Regions from separate parts of the Homo sapiens genome. Here regions 1 and 2 are each linked to region 3. Evidence: fine-mapped expression QTL. A gene starts in region 3. Each other region holds a variant in brackets. All regions are shown on one strand. Distances are between the middles of the regions.

Evidence for each region.
Region 1: its variant is fine-mapped to the expression of TRIM16 in whole blood (TOPMed, PIP 0.96).
Region 2: its variant is fine-mapped to the expression of TRIM16 in whole blood (TOPMed, PIP 0.98).

Annotation. Positions count from the first base shown.
Region 1 is chr17:15,644,761-15,647,517 of GRCh38, forward strand. The region is part of intron 7 of TRIM16 (tripartite motif containing 16); the gene reads right to left. Among named protein-coding and RNA genes, the nearest start is that of FBXW10B, 26 kb to the left of the region's middle. RefSeq lists enhancers at 1-403, 1,218-1,307. The variant A/G (reference allele first, on the strand shown) is at 1,494.
Region 2 is chr17:15,650,183-15,652,939 of GRCh38, forward strand. TRIM16 (tripartite motif containing 16) reads right to left here. Exons shown (of 12, transcript NM_001348119.1): 7 at 909-1,764. The coding sequence starts at 1,427. Among named protein-coding and RNA genes, the nearest start is that of FBXW10B, 32 kb to the left of the region's middle. RefSeq lists an enhancer at 727-1,676. The variant T/C (reference allele first, on the strand shown) is at 1,459.
Region 3 is chr17:15,682,970-15,685,726 of GRCh38, forward strand. TRIM16 (tripartite motif containing 16) reads right to left here and starts at 1,342. Exons shown (of 12, transcript NM_001348119.1): 1 at 1,227-1,342; 2 at 67-188.

The DNA of each region.
Region 1 (2,757 bases), 38 kb before region 3:
GGTGCCAGGAAATGGGGGCAGAGACCAAACCTAAGTTTTTGTTGTTGTTGTTGTTGTTCTTTGTTTGTTTTTTGAGATGGAGTCTCACACTGTCGTCCAGGCTGGAGTGCAATGGTGCAATCTTGGCTCACTACAACCTCCACCTCCCGGGTTCATGCGATTCTCCTGCCTCAGCCTCCTGAGTAGCTGGGATTACAGATACACACCGCCACACCCGGTTAATTTTTGTATTTTTAGTAGAGACAGGGTTTCACTATGTTGGCCAGACTGGTCTGGAACTCCTGACCTTGTGATCCGCCTGCCTTGGCCTCCCAAACTGTTGGGATTACAGGCATGAGCCACCGTGCCTGGCCTGTTTCTTATTTCACAACTTAATATCTCTAAACTTCCATTTCTTCACCTGTGAGATGGGGCTCAGTAAAGTGTTTGCTTCATAGGATTAGGAAAGAATGGACTAACGAGATAACGTATGTCAATAAGAACTTTGTATAGTACCAGGGACATTATTAATGAGCTCCATAAATGTCAGTGGGTGCCAGCATCGTCATCATCATCATTATTACTCCTGCTACCATGGCTGCTTTCCATTCATGTTCTGTATTCGAAGGCAGAGCCAGCCCTCCCAGCCCAGGCAAGTGCCTGCCCAAAAACCTCAGGTTTGCCTGCTTTGGCCCCAGCTTCAATCTTGCCTCCTGGGATGCACTAAACACCTTCTGCCAAGAGGTGTGCCAAGGCGCACTTAAGCCTTTGCAAACCTCAAAGACCCTGTCACTTTCCTACTTCCACAAGGGCAATATACAAAAAGAAAAAGAAAAAAAAAAAAGAATCGCTTTCACTGCTTAATAGCTTCTGTCTGCATTTAAAGCTGCGAGTCATTATGCCCTAATAGAACTCAGAGAGCATAAACTGTCTCTCCATTCTCCACTGAAGACTGGGGGAATTCCAGGCCCCCTGGGGAGGGAAGCAGCTGCAGGCAGAGGACTCGCCTCTCCAGGACACTGCAGAAGGCAGGAAATGTTTGCTCAGGCTCCAGGTCACTGAGAGTGGAGCTGAGGGGGCCCCAGTGACCTCTCACCCTTGATACCTGAGACGTGATGCCTGGGAGTGGGGAGTGGGGGTGGATCTGGCCTATTTGGGGGCAATCCTGGAATCTTGAACTATGAAAAAGGCTTACACAGTGACCCATTCCAGGGGAGAGAAAAGGAACATGAGCTGCTTGTTTAAAGGTGGTGGAAGACACATCAGAACACACCCTAGCAACAGGCTCCTACAACACGGCATCTAAACAGCAGGGACAGAAGAATGTGTTGAAGCAGTCGGCAGCAGCGGGGCCATAGGGAGGTACCCAGGGAGCATCGAGAGTGAGGGGCTTCTCTCTGCTATTTGCAGACTACCATAAAAGGAGAGAAAAGGACTCCTTAAGTACATAATCGGGGACTTTCCTGACTGAGTCACCCCAAGAAAAGGCACTCCCAGTTACCTCAAAAGGTGGA[A/G]CCACTTTGAAAGACTTGTTTCTCCAGTTATTCCTGTTCCTTGAAAATGATGGGGTGCCTCAGACACTGGCTTCAGGGTTTCCCAAGAGGTCAGCCACACACACATCTCAGGTCAGGGTGGGCCCTGCCCAGAAGCGGGACTGTGGTGCCCATGAGCACAGAAAGTTCTGGAAGGCAGGGCACACAGAGCTCTGCCTGCTTCAGCAAGACAATGACAGATGTGTCAAAGGCACACTATTTGGAGTCCGAAATATTTTGGGACCTGCCACTTGCTGGCCATATAGGCTTTGTCAAGTCATTCAAGCCATTTAGCTTCTCATCTGGTGCAAGACTACCTAAATATGCTAACAGAAGGGTTCCTTCTGCTACAGGGCAAAGGTGGCACACAAAGAGTGGCAGCCAGGTCATGTTAGAGATGAAAAATAGAAAGAACAGGGAGAGTGGGAAGAGAGAAGAAAATCCCAGACTGTGCCAGTTCCTTTGTATTCCAAGCACACAGGGTTAGCCTTTCTAGAGAAGGAAGAACTAGAGTCCACCTGGACGCTGACTGCATGCCTCGGTCAGCTGCTCAGAATTCACCATAGTACATATGGCCAGCTCAGTCACATAGGACACACACTGCCCCCTCTCAAAATACTTACAGCCTGGGAGAATAAGAAAAACAAGTTACGTAATACTGAGTCCTGGGCATTCCCCAAAATGGCTGAAATAAATTCTTTTTTTTTTTTTTTGAGATGGAGTCTTGCTCTGTCACCCAGGCTGGAGTGCAATGGCGCGATCTCGGTTCACTGCAACCTCCACCTCCCAGGTTCAAGCGATTCTCCTGCCTCAGCCTCCTGAGTAGTTGGGATTATAGGCGCCTGCTACTGTGCCAGGCTAATTTTTGTATTTTTTTTTTTTAGTAGAGACAAGGTTTCACCATGGGTCAGGCTGGTCTCAAACTCCTGACCTCAGGTGATCCACCCGCCTCGGCCTGCCAAAGTGCTGGGATTACAGGCGTGAGCCACCGCGCCCGGCCCAAGTAATTCCTTTCCCAAGTGGCCACATACACCTATCATCCACCTTTCGGCTGCCAGCAAACAGGCTGTGAGTGATGCCAGTTAACCGCTCCCCAGATGAGCGTGGATACTTTTGGCTCTAGATACTTGGCTCTTGCTCACCATGGAGACTGTGTCTGCAGCCAGCATCCAGTCCTGAACTTTCTGGGACTGATGCTGAGGTTCAGCATCGTGGCCTGGCATTAATGTTCTCCAAAGATCTAGGA
Region 2 (2,757 bases), 33 kb before region 3:
AAATGGCCATAGGTCTGCCACCTGCACTCAGTGTCAACAGGGAACTTCCTTGATGATTAATGTAGGAAATGTGGGGCAAACGTCAACTACACTTCCCGACTGAAAACTAAAAGTGTTCGCTGAAAGTCAAAGTAGAAGGAAAAAAGCATATGAGGTGCCAAACCAATTTCCAGGAACTTCTCCAGGATCTAGCTTTAGGCAAAGAAAAACGACTTGTTCTAGAAACAGTTTCCTTATCCGATGGAAATAAAATGACAGGCTATGAGCATGATGTTTCTTAGTCTCTCCTGATACCTCCATCTGGTGAGGAACTTTTATTATCCCTAAGCCACCTGTGACATTATACCTGGACCTAAGTTTCAAATTCTCTGCTATCTTAGCACTTTTCAAGCTCTTAGATTTCCTGTTATCTCCAGAGGGGCCCATTCTACTGGTCTCTTGTTTGAGAAAAAGAGAAACTGGGAGAAAGAGTTGTTCTTTTCTCTTGAATTTCTGCCAAGGTTTTATTTCATTAATTGACAATGGATGTGCCATGCAGATCCAGCCACAGGGACATATCACCGCCCTAAGCCCCCACAACTTCTGCACCCTCCACCCAAACACACATCACCAAAAGCTGTATAAGGCACAGCAGGAAACTAGCAAGAAGGAGGAGAGACAGACACAGACAGAGATCGCACAGAGACAGTGGGACAGAGATGGGGACGGAGCAACCTACTCCACACAGTTTCCAAAACCAAGTGCAATGTATATTTACACTGACCCAGCAGGCAGACGCTGAAGCTAGTCTTTTTCAGGTATGCTCAGAGCATAGTAGTGGCGTCAGTGGACCTAGCAGCTGCAGCCAGCTGGGCACACCATCCCCCACCGCCCTCTCCCAAATGGATGAATGGTCCCCAAGCACTCACCTCCTTGTCCCTGCGGGCTGCATCCAGGGAGACTATGGTGTGGCCACTGTGCTCCTGGCAACAGTCCTGGCAGATGCACTGCTGATCAGGGCAGCAGAAGGCAGACAGTGGGCTGTGGTGGGCAGGGCAGTATCGCCAGTTGTGGTCCTTCACTGGCTCGGTCAGCAGGTGGCTTTGCAGTTTGATGTTCACCTGATGCGGCTGCAAGTGCTCTTCACAGTAATTCACCATGCAGGTTAGACAGGACTTCACTGCCTTCACTCTTCTGGTGTCATCAAGGCAGAAGTCACACAGGACCTCTTTCCCCTCACCAGCAGGATCCCCCTGCTCTGCAGAGTCGCTGTCCTGTTCCTCCGTCTCCCTGCCAAGCTTCTCCGAGGAGCCCACGTCCTCTTCTTCCACTGGGCTGGCTGACCCAGAATCTGGGCTGGGTGACCCAGAGTCTGGGCTGAGAGGGGCTGGGGGCTGAGCAGTGGCCCTGGGCAGTGGCCCTGGAGCCATTAGATCCAACTCAGCCATCTGGGAGGCTCTGCTCCTAGGCTGTCTTTCT[T/C]CTGTCCCTTGGCCCAGGATCTGTGCAGCCCAAGTCAGACAAGAGAACCACGCCTAGATGATTGCAGCTGCTGCAAGATTTTAACTGTTTCCTCCCTCCCAGAGGAAGCTCGGCCACTCATTACTGTGTGCTGGCGCTGGATGGCAGCCAGATGCGATGACGACAAGGCAGCTAGAGTACTCAGGCTCAGGACAGCCGGCTCAGGCTCAGGCTGCCTCCCCAGGTCCAGCCCTGAAACTTCTATTCTTATGTGAATCATCTGAACCCCATAGGCTCTGCTGAAGACCACGTGTCTCTGTGCCTGCTCTGGAAAGGACAGAAGATTCCTGAGCTCTGTTATAAGCCTGTGTGGCTTTGTGTGGTCTGACAAGCGACATTTTTTTTTGTTTTCATTTTTAAAGAGAAGTAAAATGTAAGGACTTCAACACCAGGACAGCCATTCATCTACTCCCATCTCATAGAACTGGACATGAGGCAGCTAGGAATAGGATGCATGTTTCTTTTCTTTTCTTTTTTTTTTTTTTTGAGACAGAGTCTCACTCTGTCACCCAGGCTGGAGTGCAGTGGTGTGATCTCGGCTCACTGCAACCTCCGCCCTCCGAGTTCAAGTGATTCTCCTGCCTCAGCCTCCCGAGTAGCTGGGATTACAGGCACCTGCCACCGTGCCCGGCTAATTTCTTTTTTTTTTTTTTGTATTTTTAGTAGAGACGGGGTTTCACCATCTTGGCCAGGCTGGTCTTGAACCCCTGATCTCGTGATCCACCCGCCTCGGCCTCCCAAAGTGCTAGGATTACAGGTGAGCCACGGTGCCCACCTTTTTTTTTTTTTTTTTTTTTTTTTTGAGACACAGTCTCACTCTGTCGCCCAGGCTGGAGTGCAGTGTGGGATCTTGGCTCACTGCAACCTCCGCCTCCTGGGTTTGTGATTCTTCTGCCTCAGCCTCCTGAGTAGCTGGGATTACAGGCACCCACCACCACGCCTGGCTCATTTTTGTATTATTAGTAGAGACAGTGTTTCACCATGTTGGCCAGGCTGGTCTCGAACCCTTGACCTCAGGTGATCTGCCTGCCTGGGCTTCCCAATGTGCTGGGATTACAGGCATGAGCCACTGTGCCCAGCCAGGATGCATACTTCTGATGCTGACTTTTCCATATCATCTTCCTGAACATTCCAGTAATGTCCGTCACACTCGTGGAGATGAACATCACGTGGGTACTCAGTGGAGATCAGGAGGGTCAGGGAAGACTTGTCTCCTTCCACAGAATGCTCCCTTCAGGTTAACAGCCCTTTTGCCCACTT
Region 3 (2,757 bases):
ATGAGGTTGTGTGTGCATACTGCAGATTCTTGGCTAATGGCAGGACCCTTTATTTCTATTTCTTACCTCTGTTCTGGAGTTTGCAGGTCCAATCCTCCATAATCATAGCCTTTGCTTCACTATTTGGGTGTAGCAACCTTTCCGTTCTCCACGTATCTTCCTGGAAATTGCCAGCATTCTACCAGAAACTGTGGTAAGAGGTTCTGGATTGAAGTTTTCCCCTTTTTCATTGTATTTCTTTTTTCATTCTCTGAGACTCTACTCAGAACGCAGAGTCTGACGCAGTATCTTTTGAGCTAAAGCTAAACTCAAGAACTTCGGCAGCCATTTAATCTTCAGGAAGCCCTGAACACAGGCAAGTCTCAGTACCTTTATACCACTAGGGCCCTGCAGAGTCAGACACTGGGAACATAGACAGTTACAGACAACAGTAAGGATACTGTGCCTGATGAATACAAAAGTGCAGGGTGGTGGAAAGTGCCCTGCTGGGAGTGCCTGGATTCTAATTTCCACTATGTGCTAGTTGGCTGGGTGACCTACAACAAGCTACTTTTCATTCTTGGGTGTTTCCTTCTTACGTGCAAATGGGCAGATGGATGCCTACTATTAATAAAAGCAACAACTGATTGATCCCTTACTTGGTGTCTGGCCCTGTGTCAACTGTTGCATGTCAAAATTCCATTTAATCCTCACAACCACCACTTAATAGTAGGTACAACAAACCTCAAATTACAGGTAAAGAACACGAGACACAGAGAGTAACCTGCCTACGCTCACATCAGAGCAATACCACTCTCTGAAAATGTGGATAAACAGATCTCTGATATCCATCCCCTCCTACGTTCACACTTCAGTCTATGAAACGGTTCCACCACACTGCAGGCTGCAGAGACATAAGGGACGCGTTGGTGCCTAACCTGGCCCTGGTACAGGAGCCTTGGGCGCTACCTGCCTCACTTTGCAACCAAATGCTCCAGGGTATGCGGGCCCTCAGCCGGTTTCCAAGCAAACGACCCAGAGGTGTCTCGGATAAGAAACACACATACACCCCACTCCCACACACACAAAACCCAAAGACACGCTCCAGGGGCAGAGGGGGCGCGTCAAGGTGGCCGAACCCTAGCTCCAGCAGAAGGAATTACAGTCAGATCAGCGGGCCCGGGGAGAGACCCAAAAGGGAGCAGCCGGGACCCCAAGTCTGACAATCCACTGCTGAACACACACACCCTGTCCAGCGTCTGCTCCTCCCCGGTCCAGACACAGAGAGGGTGTCTGCTCTGGGGGACAGGGAGGACACAGACTCGCCACGCGCGGAGATCCTCCAGAGAAAGGGGCCGGAAACGGAAGTGCGCGCCGAGGCTCCTGGGAAATGTAGTCCGGAGCGGCCCGGGCGACAGAGCGAGATTCTCTCTCAAAACAAAAACAAAACAGAAAAACTAAACAATGTTAAAAGTGAAGTTATAGAGCGGAAATTTTTTTTTCTTTGAGACCGAGTCTCGCTCTGTCGTCAGACTGGAGTGCAGTGGCGCGATCTCGGCTCACTGCAACCTCCGCCTCCCGGGTTCAAGCGATTCTCCTCCTCAGACTCCCGAGTAGCTGGGATTACAGGCGCCCGCCACCATGCCCAACTAATTTTTTTAATAATTTTAGTAGAGACCAGGGTTTCACCATATTGGCTAGGCTGACCTCGAACTCCTGACCTCAGGTGATCCACTCACCTTGGCCTCCCAAAGTGCTGGGATTACAGGCGTCAGCCACCACGCCTGGCCCAAAAATTGTTTCTTATGCTTGATCTAGTCTGTTGTTAGAGTCTTGATTGTATTTTTCATTTAATTCATTGGATTCTTCAGTTCTAAGTTTTCTGTGTGGTTCTTTTTTATATCTCTGTTAAATTCCTCATTCAAATTATGAATTTTCTTGATTTCATTGAATTGTGTAACTGTATGCTCTTGAATTCCACTGTTTCCTTAAGATTATTATTTTAAATTCTTTTTCTGGAACTTTGTATATTTTCTTTTTTTTTTTGAGACAGAGTCTCGTTCTGTCGCCCAGGCTGGAGTGCAGTGGCGCAATCATCTCTAGGCTTACTGCAAGCTCTGCCTCCCGGGTTCACGCCATTCTCCTGCCTCAGCCTCCTGAGTAGCTGGGACTACAGGCGCCCACCACCACACCCAGCTAATTTTTTTTTTTTTTTTTTGTATTTTTAGTAGAGACAGCATTTCACCGTGTTAGCCAGGATGGTCTTGATCTCCTGACCTCATGATCTGCCCGCCTCAGCCTCCCAAAGTGCCAGGATTACAGGCGTGAGCCACCGCGCCCAGCCAGAACTTTGTATTTTTTCTTATGATTGGCATCTGTTACTGGAAATTATTGTGTTCTTCTGGAGGTGTTGTGCTCCTTGCTTTTTCATGTTTCATGTGTTTCTACATCTTTCTTTCTTTCTTTCTTTCTTTCTTTCTTTCTTTCTTTCTTTCTTTCTTTTTCTTTCTTTTCTTTCTTTTTTTTGACAGAGTCTTGCTCTGTCAGCTGGAGTGCAGTGGTGAGATCTTGGCTCATGGCAACCTCTGCCTCCCGCGTTCAAGGGATTCTCCTGCCACAGCCTCCGGAATAGCTGAGATTACAGGCATGTGCTGCCATGCCAGGCTAATTTTTGTATTTTTAGTAGAGACAGGGTTTCACCATTTTGGCCAGGCTGGTCTGGAACTCCTGAATGAACTCAAGCTATCTGCCCATCTCAGCCTCCCAAAGTGCTGGGAT